Linked DNA regions of Homo sapiens: region 1 is linked to region 2. Evidence: fine-mapped expression QTL. A gene starts in region 2. The other region holds a variant in brackets. All regions are shown on one strand. Distances are from middle to middle. Region 1 has its middle 31 kb from the start of PLB1. Region 2 holds the start of PLB1 (phospholipase B1).

Region 1 (4,391 bases), 31 kb before region 2:
TCCTTTATTATCTGAACACTGTTGTTAAGCCAAACTGGTGAATCTTTTATTTCAAACATTATCTTTTCCAGTTCTAGAATTTCTATTTAGTTTTCCTCTAAATCAAGTTTCTCTGCTGAGGTTTCCTATCTTTTTATTTGTTGTACATGTATCATCCTCAGCTTGCAAAGCATAGTTATAATAGCTACTTGAGAATTATGATTTTGTTAATTCCAATATCTAGGTCATCTCAGGGTCAGTCTCTGTTGATTGTCTTGTCTCTTAAAAATGGATCACATTTTCCCTGTTCTTCATATATGAAATAATTTGGATATTCTGAACATTATGATTGTTAAGTTGTGGAGACTCTGGATTCTGTTATTTCCCCTAACTGCTGATTTTTTTTTTTTTTTAATATAGATTCTTAGTTTGTCACTCAGGCTGGAGTGTGGTGGCACAATCATAGCTCACTGCAGTCTCAAACTTCTGGGTTCAAGCGATCTTCCCACCTCAAGCCTCCCAAGTAGCCACCATGCCTGGCTACTTTTTTAAATTTTTATTTAAATTTTATTTTTTGTAGAGAGGTGTCTCGCTATGTTGCCTAGTCTGGTCTCACACTCCTGGCTTCAAGTGCTCCTCTGGCTCCAGCCTCCCAAAGCACTGGGATTAAAGGATTGAGCCACTACGTCTGGCCAAATGCTGATTTTTAAATTTTGTTTTGTTTTAAGCAAGCTATTAACTTGGTTGGATCAAGCTGTAAACCATCTCTTGAGCACCAGTTTAAATCTCAGTTTAGTTTGTACATTCTTATCTGGGCTGCTTGAGCCTGCCTCATGCATGCATGGACTAGGAATTGGCCAGAGATTTGGACAGTTTATACACAGAATTTGTGGTTCTTCTTCTCTGCGTCTCTCTGTTTATGGATTCTCCCTCTCACTTTCCAATGGCTGTGGTTGCCTCGAACTCTATCCTTTGATTCTTTAGGCCAGAAGGACTGCAGACTTTCTATCATCATTTTATCTGCCCTGTGTGACTCTACCATGGCCTGCCTTTTGGATAAAAGCCATAAAAACTGTGAAACTCATCGCATATGCATCTTCCTTTTCCAAGTAGTAACTCCTCTCCAGAAACTGCCTGCTTTTGTTCACACTCCAGGGCCTTCAGGTCGTTGTTTTTCCTATTTTGTTCAGAGTTTATGGTAGTTACCTGTAGGGGTTTATACAGCAGGAGCTCACTATGCTACCCTGGAAACAGAACTGCGAGAAGTTTTGTTTGGACACATTACATTTCAGATGGTCACAAGATATGCAAGTGAAGATGTGCACTAGCCAGTTGGATGTATGCACCCGGAGCTCTGGAGATAAATCATTTAACATTTGACAGGGTATAGAAGGTATGAAGAGTCATGTGTGTGGGTAAAATCACCTAGGCCGTGAGTGTAGATGCATAAGAGAAACAGGTCCAGAACCCAGATCAGTGCACTCCAGTGTTTACACACCAGCATGATGAGGAAGAAGTAAGAATGCAGATGAGAAAGAGTGGGCAATGTCGAAAGAGGAAAACCACAAGAGCGTTGTCTTGAAGTCAAAATGAAGAAAGTATTTCAAAAAAAGACAGAGTGACCAAAGGTATCAAATGCTGTTAATGGCTTAAGTAAGATAAAGATGAAAAGTTCACTACTGGGTTTAGCAACATGAAGGTCCTTGGTGAACTGACAACAGTTTTGTTCCAGTGGAAGACTCAGAACTCACTGAAACGAAGACTTGAATCCATAAGTTTGGAGAAAGCTTTCAAGAAATTTTAACTGCCAAGAGAATAGAAAAATAGGATTGAAGCTGGAGGGGGCTATGAGGTCAAGAGAAGTTATGTTTTGATTTTCGACATTGGGAAAAATTATATCATGTTGGTATGCCAGAGGGCATAATTGAGAGGGGATCATTGATGTGTCAGGAAAGTGAGAGTTGGGCCGGGTGTGGAGGCTCACACCTGTGATCCCAGCACTTTGGGAGGCCAAGGTGGGAGGATCATTTGAGCTCAGGAGTTCAAGACCAGCCTGGGCAACACAGAGAGACCCCATCTCTAATTTAAAGGAAAAAAAAGAAAGT[G/A]AGAGTACAGAATCCTGTGCTCCAATGGAGAGCCAGCCTTAGATAGAATTGTAGGCAGCTCATTCATAGCAACTGTCAAATCCACACCATCATTTTTTGTCAGTTCCTTCAGTCTGCAGATGATATTAAAGAAACCTATTCAATAAGTTAAGCAATTCAGGAATATGGAGACAGGGGATACAGACTATGCCACTAATTCATTGCCATACCCCAGGCGATCTTATGGAAGAGGCACTAAGGGGCTGAGATGGAGGGATGGAGGGAACAGGACTGGCCATGGGGTGGACTCCAAAGACATGATGCATGCAGAAGTTCCTGGCTTCCTCCTGGGCTAGGGTGAGGAGTGTGGCCAATATGCAAGTGTCAGGATGGTGGTGGTCACGGTGGGGAGGTATGTCTGCGAATGGTGGGACACACAGACCTCATTTGAGAAAACGGATAGCAGCTTCCCGAGGAAAGTCTGGAATCTGCCTGTGCACTCTGCTGTGGCCTCTTCGACTCAGGAATGAAGCCCATCAGAGCTTGGTCCCAGGCCTGGTTGTCACCTTGCTCCCATCAGGATTGCACTTGGTTGCCATCTTGCTCCACCCCTGGCCAGATAAAATTAATCTGAGACAGGATTTGGCTCACAGAGCAGGGTTGCCCCCACTCTGTCTCTGACCTAGTGGCTTTCAAACTCGTTTTCACCAATTTTACATCGTAATTTGGTGCACATACATATATGATATATAGACTTACATAGTATTGAAACAAAACTTTAATGAAACATTTGGTCATTTAATCACTTGTGATGCGCTCTGGTATTTTCCATTTTTTTTAATGCTAGTTACAACCAACGAAACTGATTTCATGACTTCTAACCTGTAGTTGGGAAAATACCACTGTAACCACATAGATGACTTTGCTCTCGTCTGTCTCGTTCTTTCAGGGTGATGAGCAGCATAAAGATTCCAAGAAGCCTCAAACTGAGTTGATTATCTCGGTGTATCTATCTGTTCCCATAGATTAGCAAATGTGAACTTTAGAGCACATTTATGTAAATGTACTGTTGGTTTCCCTTGACCTGACCTCAAACCTGACTGACTTTTCTGCACACTGAGAGCTACAGTGCTGAGCTCACCACTTCATTCCTTTGTTCTCTCCTTATCTCATCCACTGCACCTCACATTCCATCTTTCCCCACTCAGTCCCCCTGGGAGCCCTTGAAGTTAAACTATTTGAATCATAGACTATCACAGGTGAAAGAGACTTAAGAAGTGTTTGATACAGTTATCCCTTTGGTGTAGTTCAATGATCTCCAGTCTCTGCTTGCATTTCTCCAGTGACAGAGGGCTCACTACTTAGCAAGGTAGTTTCTTTCCTTTCTTTCTTCTTTCTTTCTCTCTCTTTCTTTCTTTTCCTTCCTTCCTTCCTTCCTTCCTTCCTTCCTTCCTTCCTTCCTTCCTTCCTTCCTTCCTTCCTTCCCTCCCTCCCTCTCTCCCTCCCTCCCTCCCTTCCTCTCTCTCTCTCTCTGTCTCTCTCTTTCTTTCTTTCCTTTTGGCCAGATACAGGGCCTTGCTTTGTTGCCCAGGCTGATCTGGAACTCCTAGACTCCAGCAATCCTCCTGTCTCTGCCTGCCAAAGTGCTGGGGTGGCAGGCGTGACCCACGGCACCCAGCCTCATATTTTCAAAATATGCCAGAAAGCTGCATTTTAAAATATAAAATCATCCCATTAAAAAATGCCAACTAATTCAAAATCTTTTTTAAATTTTTCATGAGCTGACAGCCCAGGCTCACTGAAGACACCATGACACTCACATCTGCCTTCAGAGCCCAGTTCTGCGCCCGTAGTGCTGGGAGACTGAGTCTGGGCGGAGCCTGGTAACTTACCCACCCAGCTTTTACCCAGGTCTCTCCAGACGTTCTCAAGTCATTGCTGTAGCCAGGGCCAAATTCAAGAAAACAACCACATTTTCTGAAGAGCCAGAGGGAGCTGGCCTGAGTCTTGCACTAGTGGGTTTTTGTTTGTTTGTTTGTTTTTGGTAAGTGGAGAAAGCAAATGAACCTGGAATACTGTGTCAAAGAAGGCTTTGGATGGAATCCGATCCCCTACCCCGGCCAGGGTACTTACCTACTTGCTTCAGTCTTTCCTTAGCTTCTAGCTTCCTGAGTAACTTCCAACTTTCCTTCTCAATGACTCTGTTTGCTTATCTGTTTGCAAGGTAGTGAACATAAAAATCTTTTTGTGCACTTTCAGATATAAAACATGCAATGACAGGATAAAAATGTAGTTGCTTATCACAAAATTATAAAAGTATCATGGGAT
Region 2 (4,391 bases):
GATTGATTGAGCCCAAGAGTTCAAGACCAGCCTGGGCAGTATAGTGAGACCTCATCTCTGTTTTTCAAAAAAATTTTTAAAAAGAGTGTCTAAGAAATGTTGCTTCCCCTACAGCCTCACAGTTGGTGAGGATTCCTTGATGCATGGATGGAACTCAGAGATTTATTCTACCTAAAAGGACATCCAGTCTATCCCATACCAAAATGCCTTCCCAACATTCAAATGTTTTTAAGGCATTTCTCAATTTTTCTAAATGTGAAAGGAGTTAGAGGAAGGATGGTAACCCAGTTGGGCTGTGGTAGTCCTGGAGAGAAGCAGTTAAGAGATGGAGCGAGTACCTGGAGCGTGGAACCAACTTACTTCTGCGCATGCCCCATGTCCTTTCCACCCCACCTCCAGCTGGCCTGCACATGAGTGGGGACCTTGGCCTATTCAGCCCAGGCAAGTTCAGTGATGCTCCTCAAAGCTGCTGGTGGCATGGAGCTGGGTAAACTCCTGACATCCTTAGTGGGACAGCAGCTCTGGCTTCTCATTGAACTTGGGGGCAGTTTGGTGAAGTTGACAAGTGTCTACATATCCAGGGGCATCTGTGCTCACTTGTCCCCCACAGACCTTGGCCTTGGGTGTATTTTCTTCTTCCTTTTCTGTGTGTCTGTGTGTGCTGCCCTCTTCTAGGCTCTGGAACTAGCTGATGGCCAGCTGGACTAAGTGTGTCAGTGTCCACACACCTCTGGCATGTCCCAATACCCCCCTACAGTCCTGAGGCTTAGGCTAAGCCTTTGGCATTGGCTAAATCAGTGGTGACCCACAAGTCACATATTTTCTGAGCAGTTGAGAAAGGGAGACAACATCCTAAAACCAGAGATTCAGGAACAAAGGGCCACTCACTTCGTCTTCACTTTCTACTCAAGACAATAGAGGTTATAACAGTAATTAAAAACAATTTTTTTTTAATTGAGATGGAATCTTGCTCTTGTCCAGGCTGGAGTGCAGTGGTGCAATCATAGCTCACTGCAACCTTGAACTCTTGGGCTCAAGCAATCCTCTTGCCTCAGCCTCCCAAGTACCTGGGACTACAGGTGCATGCCACCATGCCTGGCTAATTTATTTTTATTTTTTGTAGAGATGGAGTTGCCCAGGCTGGTTTTCAAACTCCTGGGTTCAAATAATCCTCCTTCTTTAGCCTTCCAAAGTGCTGGGATCACAGGTGTGAGCCACTGTGTCTGGCTGTGATTTTTAAATATGAGAAAAGTGGGTCAGCCAGGAGATCAGAATCTGAGGTTGGGTCATGGGAACCAGCCCTAGAGTCTTAGCTAGACCTCAGAAGTCAGGATCCCAGCCTCACACCCACAAGCATGGCCAGAAAGCAAGGATAATTTAAATATATTTGTTCCTATCAACCAAGGCAATTGTTTCTTGATATTTGTGTAAAAAATTTAAATTCTACTCTCAAGGGTATTTGTCACTCAGGCTTTAAATGCCAGCTTTGTCTGCCCAGTTTAGACCCAGCCTGCATTCCTGACTTAGTTTACCCAAAGGAAACGGCTGATTTTGTCAAACTTGGTTCCCCCTCTCTGGCTTGTATCTCTGAATTCAACATGCAGACAACAAATCTATGGTGTGCACATCCACCCAACACAACTGGCCACCCATGGGTTTGGAGATGGGGGGAACAGAACAAACCTCTCTGTGTCATGCAAACCAGGGAACCTAGCAGAGCTTCTGAGACACGGTGGGAACACGTTTCACATTTGGAGGTAGGTTTATGGTTTACATTTGTTACAAGGTACTTTTGATCTCCTGGCTTACAACTGAGAAAGCTGAGGCCACGTTAAGGGATACACCCAAGTTCCCACAGCTGTGGTTGATTTGGAATTCCGACCAGCACCTGGGATTCCCAGGCCCACGTTCTTCCCAGCAGACCCGAACACCGGCAATTTCTGGGCACCCACCATCATGGAAGGCTGTATGGAGGCAGCTATGCGGCCCTGGTCTGTCAGTGTCTATGACTAGAACATGCTACCCATCATTGACTCATCTGCCTTAAGAACTCTTCCGCCTAAGTGTTAATATTTATCATTTACAGCCCGCCACTACCCCCTTTCAAAGGTGAACACAGTAAAATTTATGACAGGTGCTCTATCAGAACACAGAGGAACATAAAAGCAGGAGGAGGTGTGATAGCCCATCCATCTGCTGGAGCAGCTCTTCCAGAGGCCCGAGTCACCTGGAGCATTCTGGCATGGGGCTGCGGCCAGGCATTTTCCTCCTGGAGCTGCTGCTGCTTCTGGGGCAAGGTAAGCGTGCCTTTTGCTCAGAGGACAACCAGTGGTTTAGCCCCGCTGGTGTCCCATGTTGCTTAGGCAATGGGTGTGTGAGAGGAGTGTGTGCTTTTGAAGAGATAAAGCACAAAGCGTACAGTTCAAGAATAAGAAGTCTGGTTTGCCTCCTGCGGAATGGGATGCAGAGGCTGCCTACACAGGGTTACATGTCCCAAAGGCTGCCGGGAGCGAGGCAGATCTTGGGACAGGAGAGAAGTGCAGTCCGGTAGCAGTACCATGGTACAAAAAAAACCCCTGGATTCTATTTGTTTGTGCTTTGTGGCTTTGGGCAAGTTCTTCCACCTCCCTGGACCTTGATTTTTTTCATCCTTAAAATGGAAATACTACTACTATGCACATTTTGATCATTACTATTACCATTTATGAGCTTTGTTTTGTTTTTGAAGGACAAAGGAAGACAGATTTCCAGATGATAAATTCTAAAAGATTGCCTACATTCTTTAGTGCTGCTAAACAGAGTGCTGAGCTTTCATTGAACTGAGTGGGCAACCAGCCAGGGCTTTCCATTCCCCCCAACATTAATGACTGTGGGTAGATTGTGCCTCTGCCACAATCCCTCTCTGCCCCTCTTCTTCCCATCATTGGCTCTCCCTTTGCTTAGGAAGGCAGAATCTTTTAAACTGAAAAGGGCCTTAAAGATCTTTCATCTTCTCCAGATGAGAGGACGGGGTCTGGAGTGAGAAGGCACTTGCCCTTGACTCCCCAGAGAGAGTGGAGGAGGCATGGGACAGAGTCCTGGGCCTGCCTAGGGTCTGAGCCCATGCTTGAGGCTTCTCTGGGGCAAGTCAGTTACCGCTCTGAGCCGTGGGGGAGAATGACGATGCTTGCTATGCCTTCTGCACAGGATGATTGTATTTCTTTGATTACTGATGAGGCCAAGGAGTGTTTTCATAGAGATTGTTTGAGTTTCTCTTTTGTGAAGTGCCTGTTGAAGTCTTTTTCCTATTGATTTTTTAGGAGTTCTCCATATATGCTGTGTACTAGCTCTTTGGAGGTTACATATATGACAAATATCTTGTTCCACTCTGAAGCTTGTCCTCCTATGGGGACTTTTGATGAGCAAAATTCTTAATTTTGTGTAAATAAATGTAGACTACCCAAATGAGGACAAACAGAGGCTACTTATTCAGAGCTCGCTGTAGCGAGACATCACTTATGTTTGGCCAAGATTCAAAGGCAGGCAGGGGAGTGGGAAAGTTTCACAGTGGAAAAAAGGGAAATCTTCAGATCTGCTCTGGTTGGAGGTTGTTGGTATCAGGGACCAGCTGACTAGAGGCACGGCATCTGAAGTTATCCAGTTGGGAGTGTATCTGGCTTTCTCTGAGGGGTCCTGAGTTGGAAGCAGAGCAAAAAATAGAGAAGATGGCAGTCATTAACCAAACCTGACCATTCTGGGCTGATTGCTGCAGAGGCTGCAGTTTGGTTCTCTGGCCTGGCCGATTGCAGACTGTGGCTCAGAGTTCTGTTATCATATGTGGTCCCACCGTTGTCCATTTGTATATTCTCTATTTTTTTTTTTTTTGAGACAGAGTCTGGCTGTGTCACCCAGGCTGGAGTGCAGTGGCTTGGTCTCAGCTTACCGCAACCTCTGCCCTCCAGGTTCAAGCAATTCCCCTGCCTCAGCCTCCTGAGTAGCTGGGATTACAGGTGCCTGCCGCCGTGCCTGGCTAATTTTTGTATTTTTAGTAGAGACAGGGTTTCACCATGTTGGCCAGGCTGGTCTCAAACTCCTAATCTTAAGTGATCTGCCTGCCTCGGCCTCCCAGAGAGCTGGGATTACAGGTGTGAGCCACCGTGCCCGGCCTTTATTCTTAAGTATATGTATTTTAAATCTTCCTTTATGGTTTGTGCTCTTTGTATCTTAAATAACTCCTCTCCTACCTCGAGGTCATGAAGATATCTTATATTTCCTTCTAAAAGCTTTATAAATTTACTTTTCTCGTTTAAGTCAATCACCCTACATCTGGGATTGACTTTTATGAATAGTATATGAGAGGAACCCAATGTTGTTATTATTATTTCTTTTTGAGATAGAGTCTCACTCTGTCA

What was found. PIP is the estimated chance that this variant, and not a neighbour inherited with it, causes the effect.
Region 1: its variant is fine-mapped to the expression of PLB1 in whole blood (TOPMed, PIP above 0.99).

The regions. Positions count from the first base shown.
Region 1 is chr2:28,462,571-28,466,961 of GRCh38, forward strand. No RefSeq gene overlaps it. Among named protein-coding and RNA genes, the nearest start is that of PLB1, 31 kb to the right of the region's middle. The variant G/A (reference allele first, on the strand shown) is at 2,085.
Region 2 is chr2:28,493,873-28,498,263 of GRCh38, forward strand. It overlaps PLB1 (phospholipase B1), which reads left to right and starts at 2,188. Exons shown (of 58, transcript NM_153021.5): 1 at 2,188-2,297. The coding sequence starts at 2,243.